Linked DNA regions of Homo sapiens. The protein of the gene in region 1 purifies or fractionates together with the protein of each later gene. This does not show direct contact. Each region holds a gene or a part of one and is shown on either strand. Other genes may lie near its edges.

Evidence for each region.
Region 2: the proteins of SH3GL2 (region 1) and HRH1 purify together in Homo sapiens (pull-down; one study listed by IntAct). This does not show direct contact.
Region 3: the proteins of SH3GL2 (region 1) and HRH3 purify together in Homo sapiens (pull-down; one study listed by IntAct). This does not show direct contact.
Region 4: the proteins of SH3GL2 (region 1) and ADRB3 purify together in Homo sapiens (pull-down; one study listed by IntAct). This does not show direct contact.
Region 5: the proteins of SH3GL2 (region 1) and DRD3 purify together in Homo sapiens (pull-down; one study listed by IntAct). This does not show direct contact.
Region 6: the proteins of SH3GL2 (region 1) and CHRM2 purify together in Homo sapiens (pull-down; one study listed by IntAct). This does not show direct contact.
Region 7: the proteins of SH3GL2 (region 1) and DNM3 purify together in Homo sapiens (affinity purification with western blotting, with the first as the bait; one study listed by BioGRID). This does not show direct contact.

What each region holds. Positions count from the first base shown.
Region 1 is NC_000009.12:17,585,566-17,589,065, forward strand, and holds part of SH3GL2 (endophilin-A1), read left to right. Parts: intron 1-3,500. UniProt on the Homo sapiens protein: Implicated in synaptic vesicle endocytosis. May recruit other proteins to membranes with high curvature. Required for BDNF-dependent dendrite outgrowth.
Region 2 is NC_000003.12:11,255,493-11,258,992, forward strand, and holds part of HRH1 (histamine H1 receptor), read left to right. Parts: intron 1-3,500. UniProt on the Homo sapiens protein: G-protein-coupled receptor for histamine, a biogenic amine that functions as an immune modulator and a neurotransmitter.
Region 3 is NC_000020.11:62,214,460-62,217,278, reverse strand, and holds the end of HRH3 (histamine H3 receptor), read left to right. Parts: intron 1-352; coding exon 353-1,273; 3' UTR 1,274-1,872; coding exon of another isoform or gene 1,873-1,900; 3' UTR 1,901-2,319; downstream 2,320-2,819. UniProt on the Homo sapiens protein: The H3 subclass of histamine receptors could mediate the histamine signals in CNS and peripheral nervous system. Signals through the inhibition of adenylate cyclase and displays high constitutive activity (spontaneous activity in the absence of agonist).
Region 4 is NC_000008.11:37,963,800-37,967,998, forward strand, and holds the start of ADRB3 (beta-3 adrenergic receptor), read right to left. Parts: upstream 2,801-4,199; 5' UTR 2,671-2,800; coding exon 1,466-2,670; intron 441-1,465; coding exon 419-440; 3' UTR 1-418. UniProt on the Homo sapiens protein: Beta-adrenergic receptors mediate the catecholamine-induced activation of adenylate cyclase through the action of G proteins. Beta-3 is involved in the regulation of lipolysis and thermogenesis.
Region 5 is NC_000003.12:114,169,053-114,172,552, reverse strand, and holds part of DRD3 (D(3) dopamine receptor), read left to right. Parts: intron 1-525; 5' UTR 526-560; coding exon 561-830; intron 831-3,500. UniProt on the Homo sapiens protein: Dopamine receptor whose activity is mediated by G proteins which inhibit adenylyl cyclase. Promotes cell proliferation.
Region 6 is NC_000007.14:137,011,652-137,015,151, forward strand, and holds part of CHRM2 (muscarinic acetylcholine receptor M2), read left to right. Parts: intron 1-3,168; 5' UTR 3,169-3,214; coding exon 3,215-3,500. UniProt on the Homo sapiens protein: The muscarinic acetylcholine receptor mediates various cellular responses, including inhibition of adenylate cyclase, breakdown of phosphoinositides and modulation of potassium channels through the action of G proteins.
Region 7 is NC_000001.11:172,386,998-172,390,497, forward strand, and holds part of DNM3 (dynamin-3), read left to right. Parts: intron 1-135; coding exon 136-362; intron 363-1,575; coding exon 1,576-1,812; intron 1,813-3,500. UniProt on the Homo sapiens protein: Microtubule-associated force-producing protein involved in producing microtubule bundles and able to bind and hydrolyze GTP. Most probably involved in vesicular trafficking processes, in particular endocytosis.

The DNA.
Region 1 (3,500 bases):
ACGTGGGGTGGAGGTGACAGCTCTGAGAGCAGGATCAGCTAAGCAGGTGGGAAACAGGTGGGAGCAGAGAGAGCAAGGACTGTGGGCAAGTGCCTTTACTAGTGATCTCAGTGCAGTTCACAGCTCAGTGCAGTTCACAGTGCGTTGCATTGGTGCATTGGTAGGTCGTGGTCAGAAGAAGACAGAGAGGTGAACTTGTGGTAGGGGCCAACCTTATCAAACTTGTGCACCTGGTTACCTGGGTGGGGTGTTCACAGTTAGCGTATGTGGGAATGAATGTTGAGGCAGCAAGAGGCAGCAGGAGACAACATGTGAAGTTTTGAAACTTTGTAGTACAACCCTTCTCAGTGTTTTTGGTTTAGAATTTATTGTTTCCATAATCACTTAAGGAGCCTAAAAGCTTAAGAATGATGTACATGGTATCCGATGGATAATAAAGACTAAAGAGAGCTATAACTATACTTATTAAAATGCCATGATTGTGAGACCCTGCCAAGTCTTTTGCATTCTACCAACAAAATATTTTCATGCTATACTAAATCATTAGCTGATGACAAATGCTTCAGGAAATAATTTCACTATTTATAAAGGTTTTACATTTAGTACAACTTCTAAATGCCAAATATGATGTTGTAGTTGCTCTACCCTAATCTCCCTCCGCCATCCCCTGGGTCAAATTGTATATAGTAGTAATGAATATGGAGAAGCTGTCTGTAATACTCGTGAAGAACCCACAGCTCCATGGAGGTTTACTTGGATACTTAGGACACTGAAGGACCTCTAGGCAGTGTTTTCTGCCTTTTTTTGAATTATGATATATATAAAAAATAGAAATATCTTTTTTATAATTCAAACTAACCTTTCCCCATAGATACTAATGGAAGCAGTTTTATAATGCTGAGAAACATCTCAATATCAAGCTATGTATTAGTCTGTTCTCATGTTGCTAATAAAGGCATACCCGAGACTGGGTAATTTATAAAGGAAAGAGGTGTAATTGACTCACAGTTCTGCATGGCTAGGGAGGGCTCAGGAAACTTACAGTCATGGCAGAAGGGGGATCAAAAATGTCCTTCACATGACGGCAGCAAGGAGAAGTACAGAGCAAAGTGGGGTAAAAGCCCCTTATAAAACCGTCAGCTCTCGTGAGAATTCACTCACTATCACGAGAACAGTGTGGCGGTAACCACCCCTATGATTCAATTACCTCCCACCAGGTCCCTCCCATGACACATGGGGATTGTGGGAACTACAGTTTAAGATGAGATTTGGGTGGGGACACAGCCAAACCGTATCACAGAATAATGCTTGAAAGAAACATAAAGCAGATAGCCTATGCTTTTAAACGTACAGGAAATCGGCTGGGTGCGGTGGCTCATGCCTGCAATCCCAGCACTTTGGGAGGTCGAGGCAGGCAGATCACTTGAGGAGTTTGAGACCAGCTTGGCCAACATGGCAAAACCTCGTCTCTACTAAAAATGGGAAAATTAGCCAGGCTTGGTGATGCACAGCTGTATTTCTGGCTACTCAGGAGGCTGAGGCAGGAGAATTGCTTGCACCTGGGAGGCGGAGGCTACAGTGAGCCAAGATCACACCGTTGCACTCCAGCCTGGGCGACAGAGCGAGACTGTCTCAAAAACAAAACAAAACAAAACAAAAAGTACAGGAAATAATGTCCACAGTGAATGACTCCAGTGAGGAAAGGAGAGAAGGGGAGTCAGGACAGTTATTGTCCATAACAGTGATGGCATCCTGCAGGGGGCATTGTGAAATCCCCTGCCTGCCAGTAGAGGAAGTTCCTTGGTTTTACAATCTGGCTCTGCAATCTGGGAAGAACTCTTGTTCTTTCTTATATATATTTGGCCAGGTCTAAGGAGGGTTAGAGGAAATCTGCCCTCTTTGGGAACGGCATAACTTTTCAGTCAACTTCCTGTTTATTTAAATTTGGGGATTGTTTTACAGTCATAGGGTTTTCACTATCCATGGTAGATTTGAGTAATGAAATTTCTTCATAAACTTAGTAGGCTTCTGGCCAAGTGCGGTAGCTCATGCCTGTAATCCCCGCACTTTGGGAGGCCGAGGTGGGCGGGTCACCTGAGGCCAGGGGTTCAAGACCAGCCTGGACAACATGGTGAAGCCGCTTCTCTACTAAAACTACAAAAATTAGCCAGGCATGGTGGCCTACGCCTGTAGTCCCAGCTACTCGGGAGGCTGAAGCTTGAACCTGGGAGAGTTGCTTGAACCTGGGAGGCAGAGGTTGCAGTGAGCCAGATTGCACCACTGCACTCCAGCCTGAGCAGTAGAGCAAGTCACTGTCTCAAAAAAACAAAAACCAAAAAAAAAAAACCAGAAAAACTTCAACTTAATAGGCTTCTGATGTGTTTTCTTGTGAGTTTCATTTGCCAATTTCTATGATGGAAATTCTTTTTTAGACCTAATTTTCATCCAGTAGACTTGGTTGTGTTACTCTGAACTTAACAAGAGGGCCTGATACTTTGGCTTAACCAAGAAGTCTTAATGGTACTTTGTTGCTCAAAGTCTTTTTCATTTATATTTCCCGTTATTTGCTTCAGGGACTCAGGATGACCCTGGATCGGTTCTGCCATCTGTAACATATGGTTTTCAAGGTTGCCAAAGGGAAAGAATATGTTTGAACAAGCATGGGAGATGTTCATAAGCCAGGCCTGGAAGAGGAATATGGTAGACAGAATGCTACGATTGTTGGTGACTCTTGCTCTTGTGTACTCTCCTCCCCTTTGAGTGTGGGTGCAATGTTCAATTTGAAAAGATGTTATTCCTGAGACTTTTAACTTTGTAAGACAAAAGGGAGATTATATGATTGGACTTAATCTAATCTCATGAGCCCTTTAAAAGCAGGATATTTTCTCTGGCTGGTAGTGGAAGGAAAAATCAGAGAGATTGGAAGTATGAGCAGGACTGGACATGCTGTTGTTGGTTTAAAGAGGGAGGGGCCATGTGAGTAGTAATGCAGGCAGCCTCTAGGAGCAGAAATCAGCTCTTTGGTGACCATCAGCAGGGAAAATAGGGATCTTAGACCCACAGCCTTGAAGAATCTGAGAGGAAGGGAATTCTTCCCCCAAGCTTCCAGATAAGAGCCCAGTCTAGCCAACGCCTTCATTTTGGCCTTGTGAGGCCCTCAACAGGGAGCTCACTTAAGCAGGCCCAGACTTCTAATTTATAGAATTGTAAGATAATAAATGGGTATTGTTTTAAGCTGCTAAATTTGTGGTAATTTGTTATACAACAGCTGAAAATGAAGAGAAGGAATAGTTCCTTCTGTTTATGTTTGGTTGGCTGGAACTTGTAACATGGCCCCTCTGTGGTACACCTAAGAGAAATGGAAGAAGGCAAGTGTAGCCTAGCTATGTGCCCAGGATGTAAAAGTGGGTTTTTGGTTAAAAAGCTAGCAGTTTTGCTATTACTGGTGCCTATAATTAATTAATTGTGTGTCTGTATATTAATCTATTTGTGAGCTTGTA
Region 2 (3,500 bases), on another chromosome or scaffold:
AAATCTGAGATAGGTCTCAGTTAATTTGGAAAGTTTATTTTGCCAAGGTTGAGGACGCACACCCATGACACAGCAACAGGAGGTCCTGACGATGTGCCCAAAGTGGTCAGAGCACAGTTTGGTTTTATACATTCTAGGGAGACATGAGACATCAATCAATATATGCAAGATGAACATTCCTTAGGTCTGGGAAAGGCAGGACAACTGGAAGCCGGGAGGAGGCTTCCAGGTCTTAGGAAGATAAGAGACAGATGGTTGCATTCTTTTGAGTTTCTGATTAGCCTCTCCAAAAGAGGCAATCAGATATGCATTTATCTCAGTGAGCAGAGGTCTGACTTCGAACAGAATGGGAGGCGGGTTTGCCCTAAGCAGTTCCCAACTTGACTTTTCCCTTTACCTTAAGTGATTTTGGGGCCCCAAGTTATTTTCCTTTCACAGCCTACTTTCTTCCTTCCAGAAGTGACTGTGGACAATTCCACAGGGTTTGGACTTGATCAGGGCAGAAGGTGAAGCTGCAAGGTATTAGATGTGGGAATGGAGAAAAATACAGGCTGGAGCTGTGGGTTTGAGTGTTGTCCTCATAGGAGGTGATGGCTGAGGGGTAGGTAAGTGAGAGGATGAGATCCCCGAGGCCGACAGCACAGAGTGACAGGAGCATAGGGCAGGACTTTGGGTCACCCAAGGAGACAGTGATGCTTTTGAAGAAGTCAGAGGAGGCCCCATCAGCAATCAGAGGATTGCTCTGATTGGCACCTCAGAGCTGGAGGACATCAAAAAATACCGCTGTAAGAAAGAGACCTGGAAAAGTCTTTAGAGATTGTCTATCCCACCCTACCCATTTGACACATGAGAAGATGGAGGCCAAGAGATCACTGAGAAAATAAATGGTAGAGCTTGGGCAAAATCAGTGCTGCCCAAAATGGTGTTTTTCCAACAAAGACATTTAAAAGGTTCCTTCCACAAGGATCAAACACCTTGGGGTTTTGATTTTTATCTTAAAAAGTTATATAAATTTAGCCTTCTACAGGCCAGGCACGGTGGCTCACACCTATAATCCCAGCACTTTGGGAGGCTGAGGTGGGTGGATCATGAGGTCAGGAGATCAAAAGGATCCTGGCTGATATGGTGAAACCCCATCTCTACTAAAAATACAAAAATTAGCTGGGCGTGGTGGTGGGCGCATGTAATCCCAGCTACTCAGGAGGCTGAGGCAGGAGAATTACTTGAACCTGGGAGGCAGAGGTTGCAGTGAACCGAGATCGCGCCATTGCACTCCAGTCTGGCGACAGAGCGAGACTCCGTCTCTAAATAAATAAATAAATAAATTTAGCCTTCTACTCAAGAACTTATCTGGCTTTGTCTTAATGTAAAAATAATTTCTTTTTGCTAAATTATTGAGAGAAATTTACTATTTATTAGTGTTTATCAGTTTTCTTTAAACTCACCACTTTTTGATGAATATGAAAATCTAAAAACTTGGCCGGGCGCAGTGGCTCACACCTGTAATCTCAGCACTTTGGGAGGCCAAGGTGGGCGGATCATCTGAGGTCAGGAGTTCAAGATCAGCCTGACCAACATGGTGAAACCCCTTCTCTACTAAAAATACAAAAATTAGCTGGGCGTGGTGGTGGGTGCCTGTAATTGTAGCTACTCGGGAGGCTAAGGCATGAGAATCACTTGAACCCAGAAAGCAGAGGTTGCAGTGAGCTGAGATGGTGCCACTGCACTCCAGCCTGGGCGACAGAGTGAGACTCTGTCCTAAAAAAAAAAAAAAAAAAAATGGCTGGGCGTGGTGCCTCATGCCTGTAATCCCAGCACTTTGGGAGTCCAGCGTGGGTGGATCACCTGAGGTCAGGAGTTCAAGTCCAGCCTGACCAACATGGTGAAACCCCGTCTCTACTAAAAAAATACAAAAAAAATAGCCGGGTGTGGTGGCACACTCCTGTAATCCCAGCTACTCAGGAGGCTGAGGCAGGAGAATCACTTGAATTTGGGAGCTGGAGATTGTAGTGAGCCAAGATGGTGCCATTGCACTCCAGTCTGGGTGACAGAGTGAGACTCCATCTCAAAAAAAAAAAAAAAATCTTAAAAACTCCTTCCAGAAGATTTAATACTTACTTTCACCCAACCACCCGACTTGAGTATCACCAATAACAGAGGATACAGTCCGTTTTCAGTAGAGCCTTAGTAGCAAAGGGTTTTCATTTTTATTTTTCAGATACAGGATCTTGCCCTGTCACCCAAGCTGGAGTGCAGTGATGTGATCATAGCTGACTGCAGCCTCCTGAGTAGCTAGGACTATAGGTGTATTATAGGACAATTTTTAAAAAATTTCATTGTAAAGACAGGATTCCACTGTGTTGCCCAGGCTGCAAGTCTTGGCCTCAAGTGATCATTCCACCTTTAACTCTTGCCCTCAAGCAATCCTCCCACCTCAGACTCCCAAAATGCTGGGATTATGGGTGTGAGCCACCATTTCCAGCCTACTAGCAAGGGTCTTGTTACATATTACTTGGCATGATTTATGTAATTTAAAAAAATTGTTTGTTTTTCAAATAGAAAAGTAAAATAACGAATATGCTTTTCCAATAACATAATCCCCTTCTCACTTGAGAATTTTCCTCTAAAAAGATATGCTAGATTTATTTCATGCTTTATGTGCCTCTGGTGTGTCCCCTTATAACCTCCTCCATATCATTTAGGGATGGTCTCAGCTGCAAGTAAGAACTGCCACAACAGTGATGTAAGCCAAAAAAAAAAAAAAAAAAAAAAGCAAAGCCAAGCAAAACAAAGCCCATTTAATTATTTCCCATAATAATAAGTCTGGGAGAAGAAGATTCCAGAGTTGGCTCAGCAGCTTAGTGACAGCAAGGCCCTAGGCTGGCATTTTCTTGGCCTTCCCGATGGTCCCAAGATGACTCTCATGGCCTCAAACATCACTTCCTCACATCCTGTCAGGGAGAAAGAGGCAAGTGAGCAACAACAATTTTTGTTGTTTTGATCATTTGTCAGAGAGGAAGAACGTTCCTAAAAACTCCGCCTCTGCTGTTTGACATCCTCATCCTATTCCTTGGCCATGGTGGTATCTCATGGTCACTCCTCTATCTGCCACTGTAAAGAGGAACTGGATTGCTATATTCTGCTTAGACACATGAGGATGCAGCCCACCTTCCCAGAACATGTGCGGAATTAGATTTCTACAAACACATTTGTCTTGCTTCTGCCCAACTCTCTCACTAGAATGCACATTCCATAGGGGCAAACATTTTTGTCTATTTTGTTCACAGCTATATTCTCAACACCTAGAAGAGTGACAGAAATTCAATAAATAGTTGTTAAGTGAGCAAATGAATGCATGAATAAGGAAAAGGGTACATGGCTATTGAGTAGGTAACCAGCAGTGTTGATCACCCCCAACAGCATACAACTCCAGTCTGATGAACATCATGCTACTAAGTGGCCACTCATCACCCAAGTCTCTGACCTTACTTTTTCTCTCT
Region 3 (2,819 bases), on another chromosome or scaffold:
TCTGGGGCTGATGCTGAGTCTGGTCCCAAGGGTGCAGGGGCCAAGGACAGGACCCCCAGGGAGCTCACAGCTGGTAGGGGGTGGTAAACAGGCAGCCTAGCAGAGAGTGAGGGTTCAGGTTGGTCCCAGGGAGCTTCTGAGGCTCTCACTGAGTGTGGCAGGGCACCAGTCCGGGACCCCAGTGGGGAGGGTTAGAGGAAGGGAGGGGAAAGAGGGAGGGAGGGAGGACAGGAGGGGAAAGGAGGAGCATTGCTGCTGAGGGAAGGGCCCACATAGGGGCCCACAGGCTACGGGGGCGCACCCAGCCCAATATTCCTTCCGCCCCGCCCCTGACCAGCCTGCCCTTCTGCAGGTCTCATACCGGGCCCAGCAGGGTGACACGCGGCGGGCAGTGCGGAAGATGCTGCTGGTGTGGGTGCTGGCCTTCCTGCTGTACGGACCAGCCATCCTGAGCTGGGAGTACCTGTCCGGGGGCAGCTCCATCCCCGAGGGCCACTGCTATGCCGAGTTCTTCTACAACTGGTACTTCCTCATCACGGCTTCCACCCTGGAGTTCTTTACGCCCTTCCTCAGCGTCACCTTCTTTAACCTCAGCATCTACCTGAACATCCAGAGGCGCACCCGCCTCCGGCTGGATGGGGCTCGAGAGGCAGCCGGCCCCGAGCCCCCTCCCGAGGCCCAGCCCTCACCACCCCCACCGCCTGGCTGCTGGGGCTGCTGGCAGAAGGGGCACGGGGAGGCCATGCCGCTGCACAGGTATGGGGTGGGTGAGGCGGCCGTAGGCGCTGAGGCCGGGGAGGCGACCCTCGGGGGTGGCGGTGGGGGCGGCTCCGTGGCTTCACCCACCTCCAGCTCCGGCAGCTCCTCGAGGGGCACTGAGAGGCCGCGCTCACTCAAGAGGGGCTCCAAGCCGTCGGCGTCCTCGGCCTCGCTGGAGAAGCGCATGAAGATGGTGTCCCAGAGCTTCACCCAGCGCTTTCGGCTGTCTCGGGACAGGAAAGTGGCCAAGTCGCTGGCCGTCATCGTGAGCATCTTTGGGCTCTGCTGGGCCCCATACACGCTGCTGATGATCATCCGGGCCGCCTGCCATGGCCACTGCGTCCCTGACTACTGGTACGAAACCTCCTTCTGGCTCCTGTGGGCCAACTCGGCTGTCAACCCTGTCCTCTACCCTCTGTGCCACCACAGCTTCCGCCGGGCCTTCACCAAGCTGCTCTGCCCCCAGAAGCTCAAAATCCAGCCCCACAGCTCCCTGGAGCACTGCTGGAAGTGAGTGGCCCACCAGAGCCTCCCTCAGCCACGCCTCTCTCAGCCCAGGTCTCCTGGGCATCTGGCCCTGCTGCCCCCTACCCGGCTCGTTCCCCCAGGGGTGAGCCCCGCCGTGTCTGTGGCCCTCTCTTAATGCCACGGCAGCCACCCTGCCATGGAGGCGCCTTCCTGGGTTGGCCAGAGGGCCCCTCACTGGCTGGACTGGAGGCTGGGTGGCCGGCCCTGCCCCCCACATTCTGGCTCCACCGGGAGGGACAGTCTGGAGGTCCCAGACATGCTGCCCACCCCCTGCTGGTGCCCACCCTTCGCAGTTACTGGTTGGTGTTCTTCCCAAAGCAAGCACCTGGGTGTGCTCCAGGCTTCCTGCCCTAGCAGTTTGCCTCTGCACGTGCACACACCTGCACACCCCTGCACACACCTGCACACCGTCCCTCTCCCCGGACAAGCCCAGGACACTGCCTTTGCTGCCTTCTGTCTCTTGCATAAGCCTCAGGCCTGGCCCTTTCACCCCTCTTCCCACCAACTCTCTCTGCCCCCAAAAGTGTCAAGGGGCCCTAGGAACCTCGAAGCTGTTCTCTGCTTTTCCATTCTGGGTGTTTTCAGAAAGATGAAGAAGAAAACATGTCTGTGAACTTGATGTTCCTGGGATGTTTAATCAAGAGAGACAAAATTGCTGAGGAGCTCAGGGCTGGATTGGCAGGTGTGGGCTCCCACGCCCTCCTCCCTCCGCTAAGGCTTCCGGCTGAGCTGTGCCAGCTGCTTCTGCCCACCCCGCCTCTGGGCTCACACCAGCCCTGGTGGCCAAGCCTGCCCCGGCCACTCTGTTTGCTCACCCAGGACCTCTGGGGGTTGTTGGGAGGAGGGGGCCCGGCTGGGCCCGAGGGTCCCAAGGCGTGCAGGGGCGGTCCAGAGGAGGTGCCCGGGCAGGGGCCGCTTCGCCATGTGCTGTGCACCCGTGCCACGCGCTCTGCATGCTCCTCTGCCTGTGCCCGCTGCGCTGCCCTGCAAACCGTGAGGTCACAATAAAGTGTATTTTTTTATTGGTGCTGATTCCTGAGGACTTTGTGGGGTGCTCAGAGCCTTCGTGCTTTGAGGAGAGACTCCAGGGAGTCCAGAAACCACTGAGAAGCAGGCGTGAGGATGAGGGCTCTGTGTTTTCTTCTAAGTCGGGGGACTGCAGTGGGGATGAAAGACCAGCCTGCCACACCAGGGTTTAATCCCAAGAAGGGTTTCATGTGCCCTACCGCCAGACCCCTGCACTTCTCAAGACCTGGCTGGCGGGTGAGGAGATGCAGCCCACGCCCTGCACAGGAGGGGCCCGCTCTGGCCCTGAGAACACAGACATGCAGCCTTCCTGCCCCCAGGACAGGTGCCTCATCTTTCTTGGTCAGGAGCAGGGTTGCACCCCAGCAAAACTTGGGACCCAGGGAGGATCATGGCCATGCCCAGCGTGTGCAGGGTCTGGGTGGCAAAGGGACTGCAGTGACCAGAGGGGAGGGATTGGGCTAGCTGGCTGGAGCTAGGCTGGAGGGGCTGCTAGAAGGGATGAG
Region 4 (4,199 bases), on another chromosome or scaffold:
GCTCTCAGCCTGGGCCACAGAGCCTGGAGAACACTAAGGTCTCATCAGGGTTTGGGTGGCAGAAGGAATGGAACCAGGGGAGCTCTCTTTGCCCTAAGCACTCACTGACTGCACAGGCAAGCCGGGTGATGGGTGCCCCTACCAAAGCCAGCCTGCTGCTCCACGGCACCTGGACACTACCACTGAGGGAGGAGTGAAGTTCAAGGCTGGGGTTTAGAAAACATCTCTCAGACAGAGAGCAAGAGGATGGTGAAAACCCACTTGGTAAGGATCCCTCCTTGGGTCACATGGCCCAGTCGTCAGGTTCTGGAGGGTAGAGTGTCACAGCCGGGGAATCCCATGGGACTCATTCTGAACAGAGGCCAGAGGTTTTCCACAGGTTCTGATCAACAGAGTTGTTGCTTCTTGTCCTTCAGGCCTAAGAAACTCCCCAAGAAGCCCTGGGAAAAAAAGTGGAGATAATAGACCCTGGGGTGAAAGGAGCAACAGGTGCACTGAGGGGAATGACAGAGATCAGAGACCCTGGAACGCATATTTAGTTACACAAAAACGCCAGGGCACCACCCAGCCACACACGCCCCACCCCATCCCTACTCCAACCCAGCCCAGGGAGCGGGAGGGCACACATCTGCACTCACAGGCTCCTCACTCACAACTGTACTTCATACCGGAAGTGGATTCTCACCTCCACAGCTGTCAAACCTTTGAGAAAACCCAGAACTGAGGCCGAGGGCTTGGGGGGCGGGTGGGGGGGCACTAGCCCTGCCTTCAAGTCCGAGCCAGGTCTAGTGATGGCAAGAAATCGGGGGAGGGGGGCAAAGAACTGAGCTGGAAAACCAAAACTAGAGCCGACCCGGCGCCCTGGCTCCGGCCTGTAATCCTAATGCTTTGGAAGGCTGAGGCAGAAGGATCACTTGAGGCCAGAAGTTCAAGACAAGCCTGGGCAACATAGCAAGACCCCATCTCTACAAGAAATTTTAAAAATAGCTGGGATTGGTGGGGCTCGCCTGTAGTCCCAGATACTCAGGAGGCTGAGGTGGGAGGATCGCTTGAGCCCAGGAGCCAGGAGTTCAAGACTGCAGTGAGCTGAGATCGCGCCACTGCATTCCCGCGTGGGCGACAGAGACGAAACCCTGTCTCTATTTAAAAAAAAAAAAAATCCCTAAAGCCGACCAGGCGAGGCGAGAGTCCTCGGGACACCGCAGCGCTTTCCGGTGGCGCACCTTGGGTCCTTGGGTGAGGAACGACGGCCCGCTCGCCCTCCTTTGCTTCTACCCTAGTGACTGGATCCGGAAAGAAAAGGACCCTGGGTCCCATTTTGGTTCGCTACTCCTCGTTCCCTTTTCTCTCCAAGCAAAGCCATCCCACCTTCTCTTAATAAACTCCACACTCAAAAAGTTGACCCACGGACACATCGCATGCTTCCCGACCCTGAGCCGCCGGTCCCTCTGCCCCGGTTACCTACCCGTCGAGCCGTTGGCAAAGCCTGGGCTGCGCTGGGCTGCTCCGGGCCGCAGGAACGCCCGAGGGGAAGAGGGCCGGGCGGGCGGCGGCGCAGGGCTCCGGAGGCAGGCGACGGCCGCAGCGGCACAGAAGACGGCGGAAGGCGCTGCGAAAGTCCGGGCTGCGGCAGTAGATGAGCGGGTTGAAGGCAGAATTGGCATAACCTAGCCAGTTCAGGGCAAGGAAAGCCGGGCCCGGGACTAGAGAGGGGCCCCCCAGGGCGCGCAGCACGTTGGCCAGAAAGAAGGGCAACCAGCAGAGAGTGAAGGTGCCCATGATGAGACCCAAGGTGCACAGGGCCCGGTGTTCCCGGAGAGGCAGGAGGCGCGCGGGCCGCCGGCCGCAGGCGGGCACCCCTTCGGGCGGAGCGCACGTCCCCACCGGGGCCGGGGCCAGAGAGCGCGACGGCGCCGGCGGAGACTCCTCGGGCGGAAAGCGGCCCAGCTCCCCGCGCAGCAAGCGCAGCTGGCGCGTAGCCACCACGAAAACCCGCGCGTAGACGAAGAGCATCACGAGAAGAGGAAGGTAGAAGGAGACGGAGGAGGACAGCAGCACGTAGGGCATGTTGGAGGCGAAGGCACAGCAGCGCGGGTTGGAGTGGCAGCGCTGCGCCTCGGCGTCGGCCCCTACGCGCCACCACTGGCTCATGATGGGCGCAAACGACACCGCGGCCGACACGACCCACACCAGGACCACAGCTGTCCGGGCGCAGCGCTTGGTGACCAGTGCGCCGTAACGCAGCGGGTTGGTCACAGCCAGGTAGCGGTCCACGGCCAGGGCGCACAGGGTTTCGATGCTGGCGGTCACACACAGCACGTCCACCGAGGTCCACAGCTCGCAGCCAGTGGCGCCCAACGGCCAGTGGCCAGTCAGCGCCAAGGTGGCCGCCGGCGGCACCACCAGGAGTCCCATCACCAGGTCGGCTGCGGCCAGCGAAGTCACGAACACGTTGGTCATGGTCTGGAGTCTCGGAGTCCAGGCGATGGCCACGATGACCAGCAGGTTGCCTCCCACGGTGGCCAGCACCGCCAGCGCCAGCAGGGCCCCGGCTAGGGCCGCCTCCCACGGAACCCCTGGCAGCCCACTGGTGTTGGCGGTATTGGGCGCCAGGGTGGGGAGGTCCGGCCATGGGGCAAGAGAGCTGTTCTCGTGAGGCCACGGAGCCATCCCCGGGTCGCGCGTGGGGCGGTAGGGAAAGAAGGAAGGAGGGGGTCTCCCAAATCACCTGGCTCAGGGGAGGGGACAGCAAGGCATGAGAGCGACTTCCCCAGCCTGGGCCATCTTCTCTAGCTGTCCCAGCCAGAGCGCTCAGCCTCCCCCCACCCCAACTCCCTCGGTGCCACCGCTCTTGGGGGAGGAGTAGCGACGCTTAAAGGGGCAGCTGCCTATAGTCTGGAGGGGCCTCTGGAGCCGAATTGGAGAGTGGGGAGGATGGCCAATGGGATGCTCCACGTTTCCTTTAGCTAAATCTGGAGGAAGGGACACCGTGGTTCCTCTGCCACCATCTGTCCACCCCTGCCGTGGCCAGGCTCCTGGACTCAGCATAGCACTCCCTGGGCACTGGCTTCCTGGAGCCCTGCACCTCCTTTCCCAGAAGTTCCCACAGCAAGGCAGGGGAAGGAGAGAGGAGAGCGCTCCCATCCCCACCCTTTATGTATCAGAGGCAAAGGTAACCCGCTGGAGTCAAGCAAAGGATTCACAGGAGCCCCGCATCCACTTGGGTGGCCTCCCCTAAGGTATTTTAAATTAAGTAATAGGGCTCAGCCAGTATCTCCTCTCCCAAGACCTCAGCTTGGTGAGATCTGTCCCCTTTCCCTTCTGTTTCAGTTACCTTCTCTTTCCTTCTAGCTTTTTGTTTTTTTTAATATTTTCAGGTACTGAGGAAATTTACCATATTTCAAGTCTCTCTCTCTCTCTATTTTTCCCAGGCTGGCTTTGAACTCCCGGGCTCAAGCCACCCTCCTGTCCCAGCCTCCTGAGTAGTTGGAATTGCAGGCGTGAACCACTAGGAGGCTCAGGAGTCTTTTTCTTTTTCTTTTCTTTTTTTTTTTTTTTTTGAGACGGCGTCTCGCTCTGTCACCCAGGCTGGAGGCTGGAGTGCAATGATGTGATGTCTGCTCACTGCAATCTCCACCTCCCGGGTTCAAGCGCTTCTCCTGCCTCAGCCTCCCAAGTAGCTGGGACTGCAGGCACCCGCCAGCATGCCCAACTAATTTTTATATTTTTAGTAGAGACGGGGTTTCACCATGTTGGCCAGGATGGTCTCGATCTCCTGACCTCGTGATCCGCCCGCCTCGGCCTCCCAAAGTGCTGGGATTACAGGCGTGAGCCATCGCGCCCGGCCAGGAGTCTTTTTCATTGCTAGCTCTGGATTTGCATTTGGATTTGGCACTATGTAGTCTGGGATGCTGAAGAATTTCAATTTCTCCATCTTCCCCACTCTGCACTGCCCCTTCCATGCACCTTTCCACCTAGAGATTTTCTAGATAGCCCCTTCTCTTAAAATCTTTCTGCTATAAAGACATATTAAAAATGGATGAATCAACAGGTGGGCGCGGTGGCTCACGCCTGTAATCCCAGCACTTTGGGAGGTCGAGGTGGGCAGATCACCTGAGGTCAGGAGTTCAAGACCAGCCTGAACAACAAGGAGAAACCCTGTCTCTACTAAAAATACAAAAAAAAAAAAAAAAAATTAG
Region 5 (3,500 bases), on another chromosome or scaffold:
TACTCCTGCCTCACTTGGCTCCAGCCTCACCAGACTCCCTCCTATGACTTCTATGTGCTAGCCCTTCCTGCTGGCCCGTGTTGTTCTCACTGCTCAGACTGCTATCACATCTGATAACTGCATGGTCTGCTTCCTGATCTCCTCCAGGTCAAGACTCAATTGCTGATTTCTCCATGAGGAGTTCCTGATTATACTCAGATACTCACTCACATACGCACAATCTTCACCCGTTACTTACCTGCCTCTCTGATTTGTCTCCAATATACGTATCATTATTGAACACACCACATCTTTTATTTATCTTGTTTATTATCTGTCTTCTCCTCTAGAATGGGAGCTTCAAAGGGAAGGAATTAAGATTTTATCTGTTTTGTTCATTGCTCTATCTCCAACTCTCACAACAGTGCCTACTATATAGAAAATGCTCAATAAATATTTGCTGATGCAATAAATAAAAAAATGTAACTAAGCAACCAAGCCCCAAAGAGTCTGATTTTATTAATATTGTTTTCTGTCTCCTCACAGGAAGCCCCTTGGCATCACGCACCTCCCTCTGGGCTATGGCATCTCTGAGCCAGCTGAGTGGCCACCTGAACTACACCTGTGGGGCAGAGAACTCCACAGGTGCCAGCCAGGCCCGCCCACATGCCTACTATGCCCTCTCCTACTGCGCGCTCATCCTGGCCATCGTCTTCGGCAATGGCCTGGTGTGCATGGCTGTGCTGAAGGAGCGGGCCCTGCAGACTACCACCAACTACTTAGTAGTGAGCCTGGCTGTGGCAGACTTGCTGGTGGCCACCTTGGTGATGCCCTGGGTGGTATACCTGGAGGTGAGTAGACTTCAGGTGCATGTTGTCTCTATGACTGTGCTAGTACTTGTCTTCCCTGAGTTCTGGCCTTTGGGGCTCAAAAGACTCCCCAGACAGTCAGGAACTGAGGAAGGAAGGAGAGCTCTCATTCTCCCTGTAATGAGAGAGTTAAAGCTCTGGAAAACAGTCACCATCCTGTCCCTCATCCACATCAGAACCAAGGAGCTGAGAATGATTCTGTTCATGGGTCTCCAGTGTTCAGGTGACTGGATTTGAGTGACGGGACTCTTCCTAATATGGCCTAGAGTTTATTCTCTGTGCCAGACATGTCTCAATGACATGGTGGGCTGGGTGAAGCAGTCCAGAAGACCTCTTCACCAGTGTTTAATGTATATGAGGGTGAGGGTGTGCAGGAGGGATGTGAGGCCAGGAGGAAAAAGGAATTATAGAAAAAAAAAATTAGTGAATGTAAGGGAAGATAGAAAGAATGACCAGCGAACAGATCAGACTTCTTTCGATGGCTCAGTCCCTCTTTGCTCTTTCCTCCTGGGTACCAGTTCTCCATAGACTCTGCTACCAAAGGAACAGACAAAACCCTCAAATGTATATTTTCCATGTGTCCATGAATAGTACAGAGCCTTTGCCAGAGAGATAGTGCAGCAGATCCTGGTGAATTCTTTTGGGGAGAAACATTTATTAAATTTGAAAGTATTTTCAATTGGGAGTGCAAAACAGAGCCAGGGGGTGGTCAAGACAAAACACCCATTTGCTAACAAAGAAATCAGGGTGACCATATCTGTTCAAGAAACAGATATTCTTACCAGGAAAACATGCAATTACTTAAGATATGTTTTTTTAAAAAAACCTGAGTATACTATTAATATTTCTCCTCTGCACTGTGTGTCATTTTAAAGAGGTATCCAATGAAGGATCAAAATGATGCTATGATTAAGAGAAATTAAGATTCATCAAATTAATATCTCAGTTAATATTGATAGTAAAAGTGACAGTTAATTAAGTATGACATATCACGGGAGAGCAAAAACCTTGTACATAGACTGCCTGTGCTAATACCTTTGTTAAAGATGGCTGGGAACTAAAATTAGACTTATGATCTCAAGGGGGAGACATAAAGAGAGAAAAAAAGAAAACAGAGAAATAAAAGGAAAAGAAGAAAAACAACTAGGCTGTGTAGATCTAAAGGCTAAGGGAATACTTGAGGAAAAAATATGCATTTATTCTTCCCAGTTAGGATAATCCTAGTTGGGAGGGTGAAGGGTCTTATAATTATCTTGATTTTTCTGTCAACCCAATTAGTCTGAGTCAACCTTGAAGTCAGAGACTAGATCTTTACTCTTCATCTCCTGTAGCCTAAACATACTACCTGGCACAAAATACATGCTAACTGCTATAACATTTGATATATGAATGATGAAATGAATCTTCTCTGTAATGTATGCATTATATGGGCTATTCCTGCTAATACCATCTGCCTCTCTATCTATTGTTACACTCAGACTTTTTGGGGAGAGGACTTTTGGGGACGAGCTATTTGTTATTTTACATCCAACAATAATGAGCCTGAAAAAATTTCGAAGCATGTGATATTTCTGTTCAAGAATGAGGCGCTTTAGGTGCAACCAGCCAATATGAATTGGTCAATAACTCATAGCACTGTCATCATCTTCCTAAAATGTTTTTGTCCATTTCTATGTGTTCCAAGGAATGTTAAGTCCTCCAGAAGGATGAATGGCAGGAAGAAATGTAGGCAGTGGACCTTCACTCTAATGAGCATTTTTATTCCCTCTAAGATAAAACCAGGCTTTTGGTGTCTGTAACAAAGCCACTCAGGGGCATTTGTTGGCTATGTATTTGTGATTATTTCTAGGACTCTGGTTGGACCATACTGGAAAACATCTGTATGTACTGGTTTAGGAGATAGACATTGTGACTTTTCCACACTAGAAATCCATGGCACCCCTTCTAGCCATACCTTCTGATATACTGGTGCTCCTATTCTACTACTGAGCATAGAAGGGCAGGTGAGACTATAGAAAATGACAGGAAATCTTGCCAAAGGCCTTAAAGAAATCACTGTAGTAGTACATATAGGTTTTCTTCCATGAGAACAGCTCTGATGAAGTTTTTGGTTTCTCCCCATAAAAACCATAATACTATGCCCTCTGTCCAACAGGTTATTTCATGTAGGTATTCAGTGATCAAGATCATAATTTTTACATTTGATCTTAACCAAAAGGCTGAGAAGCAATAAGAGCATGATTTTTAAAATCTATATTCACACAAGGAAGATTCAGGGGAGCAGAGACGTCTCCTCACTGGCTTTAGGACCTCTTTTTGGTCTTACCAATTTGCTTCAAGACCCAGTCAATGTCTTGAAGCGAGTTGGTAAGACCAAAAAGAGGCCCTAAAGCCAGTGAAGAATACAGAGGACCAAGTCTCTCCATCTTACATCAGTCTATACTTTTCTTAATCTCAAATGTTTTCCTATCTTTCCTTAGAGGCAAATGAGGCACCTTAATGAAAGAAAAGAGCACTTTGAGCCCTTAAAATATGGGCTATGAATACATAAATCCATGTTCCTCAAGAAGAAGCAAAGTATTATTCTCACTAACTTGTCCTAATGATAGTACAGTTTGAGTAGCTACTCTACTAATTACTTAATTATACCTA
Region 6 (3,500 bases), on another chromosome or scaffold:
ATTTTATCAGGTTTCTAGGTATTCCTTAATTCTGCCAAGTTGACACCTAAAATTAAGTTCACAAGTCCACCACTTGTCAGCCTAGTGTTCATATACATCTCCTCAAACTATATGTTATTTCCAAATAAAAGCAGTAACAAGGTGATGGTTCCACCTAACATGATGCAGGCCAATGTGATGAGACCATCCTGCATGCAAGTGAAATGCCAACCCCTTTTCCAGAATTCAGCTTTCAGGATTTCAACATTCAGAATTTTAATCTTTCAGGATTGTAATTTTGGGGATTTTGGACCTTAGCAATTTAGATCCTCATCAAACTAGTTGATTTTGAATCCCTACTTTTCAACATCAGTGTTATTCATTATTCTCCAGAGGAAATTATCAAAAATCTTTTAAAAACTAGAATATAAGTCCTATGCTTTATCAAAATTATGAATAATTAAAATGCAGAGTCAATACATTCATTTTTTGTATTTTTCAAACTAAGTGAATTAATATTAACATTTCATGAAACAGATACACATATAGCTCAACTCCAAACTGTCCATGAATTTATCTAATAAACAGAGAAAATGCTGCTTATAAGCAAGTCACAATTCTGATCTTACAGTTAGCTGAGCTATTAAGAAATTGTTGGAATAAGAACTGGGATAATAAAATGTTTTTGTTCAAATAAATTACCATGAATATACAATTGTATGATTAATTGCAAAAAAGGATTGTCAAAGGGAAATCCGATTAAAATAATTCAACTGATCTAAGTTGCATTCCATTAACATCATTTCCCTGATTAAACTCTTCAATATTTCCCAATGAGCTGCAGGCATACATATGTAATATTACATATAATCACCTTTTTGCTTAAATAAAATTATATTCTGTAATAATCTATGTCTCACTATGATTATGTCATCTTCTAACTATATAACTTTCCACAGCAATGCCAGGACACAAATATCTACCTGTTTTACTAGCCGCATAATATTCCATTGTAAGAGTATTCCATAATATATTTAACCAATCCCTTGTCAATGAATAGTTTTAATATATCTCGGGATTTTTTTGCTATAACAACATTTCTGAGTGAACATACTTGAGTAGACCTCTTTGTACATTTTTATGACTCTATCTGAAAGACACATTCCTAAATGTGGCATTCCTGAGACAAGTGTTTCTTAATACATTTTTATAGATACAGATTTAAAGTTCTATAGATATAGATACATTATCCTTCGTGGTGATTATCCCGCTAGTCCCACCAAAAGTATTCAACACTACCATTAATACTACGGATGGAAAATTGTTTTTCACTGTCTGGATTTGCATCTTTAAACTGTGGGGTTGAGTATCATTTCATATGTTTAAAAGTCATTAATGTCTAATTTTTCTTTGATTGAACTACTACATCAATGTTTTAGATTATTCATCTTTCATCTTTCCTTTTTTGCCAAAACTCTATTATATTAAAGACATTGGATAATTTTCTATCGTGCAATTTACAAATATTGTTTCTCAATTGTTATTTTGACTTTTTTGCTCTATGCAAAAATTTTAAAGGAATATGCAACAGTTACATATATTTTCCTTTCTGGCTTCTGAATTTTGGGTCTTATTATATTAAGGCCAAATCCCATTATTTGGGTTTTGTCAAATAAAATACTGGAAAACAATTGACTTTCCAAAGCAGAAAAAATTATTTTTTTAAATGTTATTTGTGTTATGAAGTTGCTTACCAAATTATTTTCTACATGGATTTCAAGGGCAAACCACTGCCCATTTCTTTGTAATTAATAGCATCCAAACTAATCAATATTCCCAAATTTTAATTTCTCAGCAATGCTTATTTTCTGACAGCTCACAGCAATTTTTTCAAAAAGAGGTGGAACTTGGGCTAGTTTCTGCTTCAGATGCTGTTTCTCCAGAAATGTGTCATATCTCTTTGATGAATTCTTAACTTTCTTTTCTAAATCCCCAATATACATTTTCCATTATGAAAGATCACTCAATTGTCATCAGACTTCAATGATATTATCTCAAAAATGATGATTATGTGTTTACTTACACACAACAGGATAGGGAAACAAGAAGTGCATTCAGGTTTAATAATTGCTTCTTCATCAACCCATGTCTGCCACCAGGCAGAGACCTTGTTTTAATCATCATTGAACGTCCAGAACACCTAATTAAGAGAAGCTGCTCAATAGATATGTGAGCACAAAGTGAAAGAATGAATGACTGAACAAACTGGGATTTCATCTTTCTGAGCCTTAGTTCCTTCTACAAAACAAAAAGTTTGGCAGAAAGAATAGTAAGATAATAGATTTGATAGTGGTTTGAAAAACAAAACATTCAGAAAAGTGGTATTTTCTCCCATAATTTTGTCTTCTTATTGATGTATTAATTTGTATGTCTATTCCAGAAATCTCTTTATGCTTTGGAAAGTCTTATGCATAATTTTGGCTTTTTCAGTTCAATATGCATTTAATAAGCAAATATTCTTGTGTAAGATATGGAATATTGGAAATGCTGATTATGTAATACTGATTACAAGTATGAAATAAAATAGAGGCAAGAGGAAAATAATTCTCATCTAGGGAGAGTATACTGGCTATTAAGTATTATTATATTATCTTTATTTTCACCATCCTCAGTGTTATTGTGAAAAAGGCTTAGAGCTTCCATGAGGAAAGGCACTGTTAACTATAAAAGTCACACATTCAATATTATACATTCTATGCTTTCTTCTATAATTGTGTCCTCTCACTAATTTACTAATTTTTATGTCTATTCCAGGAATCCCTTGATGTTTTAGAAAGTGTTGTTTGTAATTTTGGTTTATTTAATTCAATTTATCAGTATTATGCTAAGTTTCATGGATTGATGAGATATATAGGTAGATAGGTAGGTAGATAGATACTCATATCTGGATAAGGACATATTTAAAACATTACTGGACTTCAAGTTCATTGCCAGCCTGAAAGGTCCTTTTGAATCCTCCATTTGAAGGTCTTGCTTTTTACATGGGGAATTGAGGCAGGTAGACACAGTAATCATGCAGGGGAAGGGAGATTTGGGAGAAAATAATGTGGTTTAAAAGGAGAAACAACATTATGTATTTTAAACCAATGTTTATATTATGTTTGTTAATTTTATTCTATTTCCTTGCAGGTTTAAATGTTTATTTGCTACTTGGCTACTGATTAGAGAACGCAAAATGAATAACTCAACAAACTCCTCTAACAATAGCCTGGCTCTTACAAGTCCTTATAAGACATTTGAAGTGGTGTTTATTGTCCTGGTGGCTGGATCCCTCAGTTTGGTGACCATTATCGGGAACATCCTAGTCATGGTTTCCATTAAAGTCAACCGCCACCTCCAGACCGTCAACAATTACTTTTTATTCAGCTTGGCCTGTGCTGACCTTATCATAGGTGTTTTCTCCATGAACTTGTACACCCTCTACACTGTGATTGGTTACTGGCCTTTGGGACCTGTGGTGT
Region 7 (3,500 bases), on another chromosome or scaffold:
GCTTCACTTTTCCCAGGGTGGACTTTGGTGGACTTTGGTGGACTTTGTCCAGACTCTGACTGCCACAGCCATGTTTCTACCTCCACTCAGTCACTCATTTATTCCCATTTTTATTTCTCTGTGGTGATCTGACAGGTTAAAGATTTCATAAATTCCGAGCTCCTAGCACAGTTGTATTCTTCAGAGGACCAAAATACCCTGATGGAGGAATCTGCTGAGCAGGCTCAGCGCCGGGATGAGATGCTTCGAATGTATCAAGCACTGAAAGAAGCCCTTGGGATAATTGGGGACATCAGCACAGCCACCGTGTCCACTCCGGCACCCCCTCCAGTGGATGACTCCTGGATACAGCACTCTCGCAGGTAAGAAGATGGCCCCGGCCGGGTGCGGTGGCTCGCTCCTGTAATCCCAGCACTTTGAGAGGCCGAGGCGGGCGGATCACGAGGTCAGGAGATCGAGACCATCCTGGCGAACATAGTGAAACCCTGTCTCTACTAAAAACATAAAAAAAATTAGCCGGGCGTGGTGGCGGGTGCCTGTAGTCCCAGCTACTCGGGAGGCTGAGGCAGGAGAATGGTGTGAACCCGGGAGGCAGAGCTTGCAGTGAGCCGAGATCGTGCACTGCACTCCAGCCTGGGTGACAGAGCAAGACTCCGTCTCAAAAAAAAAAAAGAAGATGGACCCACCCACAACCCCTGAGCCCTGCCACGCTTGTCCAATATCATTTTCTGAGAGTGCTTTCCTAAACCAAGATGGACCTACAGAAAAAGGGGAAAAGATATTTACATTCAGGAGTAAGGATCAGATTATACTAACTCCCTTAAAAATGCAGCACAGTGCATCCTCACAATGGAATGTTATATAGTCACTAAAAAGAACAAGACAGTTCTATTAAGTCCTAAAATGAAAAGATAATCCAGTTAACGGGAAGCTTTAAAAAAAAGGGAGGTTGTATGCCAGGCGCGGTGGCTCACGCCTGTATTCCCAGCACTTTGGGAGGCCGAGGCAAGCGGATCACCTAAGGTCAGGAGTTTGAGACCAGGCTGGCCAACATAGTGAAACCCTGTCCCTACTAAAAATACAAAAATTAGCTGGGGGTGGTGGCGCACACCTGTGATCCCAGCTACTCGGGAGGCTGAGGCAGGAGAATCGCTTGAATTCAGGAGTCAGAGGTTGCAGTGAGCCGAGATCACGCCACTGCACTCCAGCCTGGGTGACAGAGCGAGACTCCGCCTCAAAGAAAAAAAAAAGGAGGTTGTAGAAGACTGTGTTCTATGGTATACAGAAAAGCAATTTATATATAGAGAGAGAAAATATATACTTATACAAATGTAGAATACAGTTAAAAAGGATGCACAAGAAACTTCTATAGTTGTTTCAACAGAGTGAAGGGGTAGGGAGAGGAAAACTTACTTTTCTCCATTTACCCTTTTATCCCTTTGACTTTCATGACATGAATTGGACTTATTCAGTCAAAAAATAATTTTTAAAAAGCAGGAAGTTACAAAACATTTTTAGAGATTAATTCAGACAGAAAGGAGGAGTGAGCAAACTATGATTTCTCTTTTTCCTCAGGTCACCTCCTCCAAGCCCCACAACCCAAAGGAGGCCAACACTAAGTGCTCCCCTCGCAAGGCCCACATCCGGCCGAGGACCAGCTCCTGCCATTCCCTCTCCTGGCCCCCACTCTGGGGCTCCTCCAGTCCCATTCCGTCCAGGCCCATTACCTCCTTTCCCCAGCAGCAGTGACTCCTTCGGAGCCCCTCCACAAGTTCCATCTAGGCCTACGAGGGCCCCGCCCAGTGTCCCAAGGTAAGGCATGGAGCAGAAATTGGGGGGGTAGTGCGCCTTGGTTCTCTTCTCATAGAATGACAGACAAAATTTATTTGAAAGAGAAAATTGCAAAGATCTTATCGTACGTGTTTGCAGTTTTCACAATGAACAGAGACTATAGGAAAATTGCCAACCCTGTTATGCCATTTAAAAATCACTTGTGATCATTGAAATTTCTCATTTATCAATTGGCACAGACTAAATAGGACTAAAGAACACTCCGTCCCAATGAATGACATTTTGGCAGCTATTGGGAGAATTTGAGGGCTTTGAAACAAAAGAGCTATGGAGGATTGTAGCAAGCTGTGTGTTCTATAGGTCATGAGAGTTCCATGGACTAAAGTCTTGCCTTCTCCATTATCAAAAGAATTCTTGAAAACCACTGACTTAGAGAATTTTATCCATCTGCCTTCTGAACTGTGATCCTTATACTCAATTTTACCAATTTTCATATAGGCTGAATAAATCTGGCTGATTGATCTGCAATTGTTTTTTTAAAAACTACACATAGAAATTTTAATATAGGCATGATTGTTGTATACAGTCACTAATCATATATAAGATAGATCATTGTACATCTGAATAATACGTGTTGACAATTATAAGTGGATTTTCAGGCTTAATTGTGAAACAATATAGCTAATAAATAATGGACCTAGAAACACACATAGTTGGAGCTGTAGTCTCACCTTCATATACTTACAGTCAAAATATACACAATGAATAGAATCAGAGATTTTTAAGGTATAAAGTACTAAGGTTTTTTTCCCCCTCAAAATCAGAAATATAAAGAGGAAAGAAAATTAGCCCATATATAAAGTTAATTTTTAAAAAATTCAATTCAGAGAATTAAAATATTTATATACTCCATGAAGGAATATCTGACTGTATATGAACCATAAAAACAGATGTGACTTCTACCCATCCCTGAAGCCTGAGCCACCTTGCCAACTGATTATGGCACTTACGTTTTATTTTAATCTTCAAGTTGTTAAGCGTAATGAAGAGAAGAGAAGAAGGGGGATCTTAAGCTAGTACACAGAGGGTGGTACAGCAAGAATAGGCAGGAGATTTGCAGTCAGAAGACCTGGGTTACTGAAGGTCTTGGGCAACTCATTTAACTCTGAGACGGGAGTTCTTTATCTATGAAACAGGGAGAACTCAATAAGGTTGTTCCCCAGATCATATGACATGAGGTATTTGAAAGAGTTTGATACACTGTAAAGACTACAGTTGTTACCACTGTTATCATTTTGGTCCTAAGCAAAGAGGATATATACACACTCTCAATCCAATTTTTTTTCTCTAAATTCAATAGACTTGGCTTATAAATTATTTGGAATGGTGCTAAATTTCTAGTAATAGCAGTACTAGCAATAGCCAACATTTATTGTGCCCTCAATATTACTAGGCATTGCCCTAAGAACTTTGTATATACATTTTTGTTTAAAGCTCACAACAAATAGGTTGTTATCCACATTTTACAGATGAGGCAGTGAGGTTAAACAGCTTGCCCAAGGCTGCTCAGCCAGTCCCTAGTGGAGCTGGACTTTAATCCCATGCAGTCTGCTTCCAAAGCCATTTCCTGACCATGACCCCAGGGTTTTTCAGCCTCATCAGTACTGACGTTTTTGTTGTGGAGGGCTGTCCTGTGTATTGTAAGATGT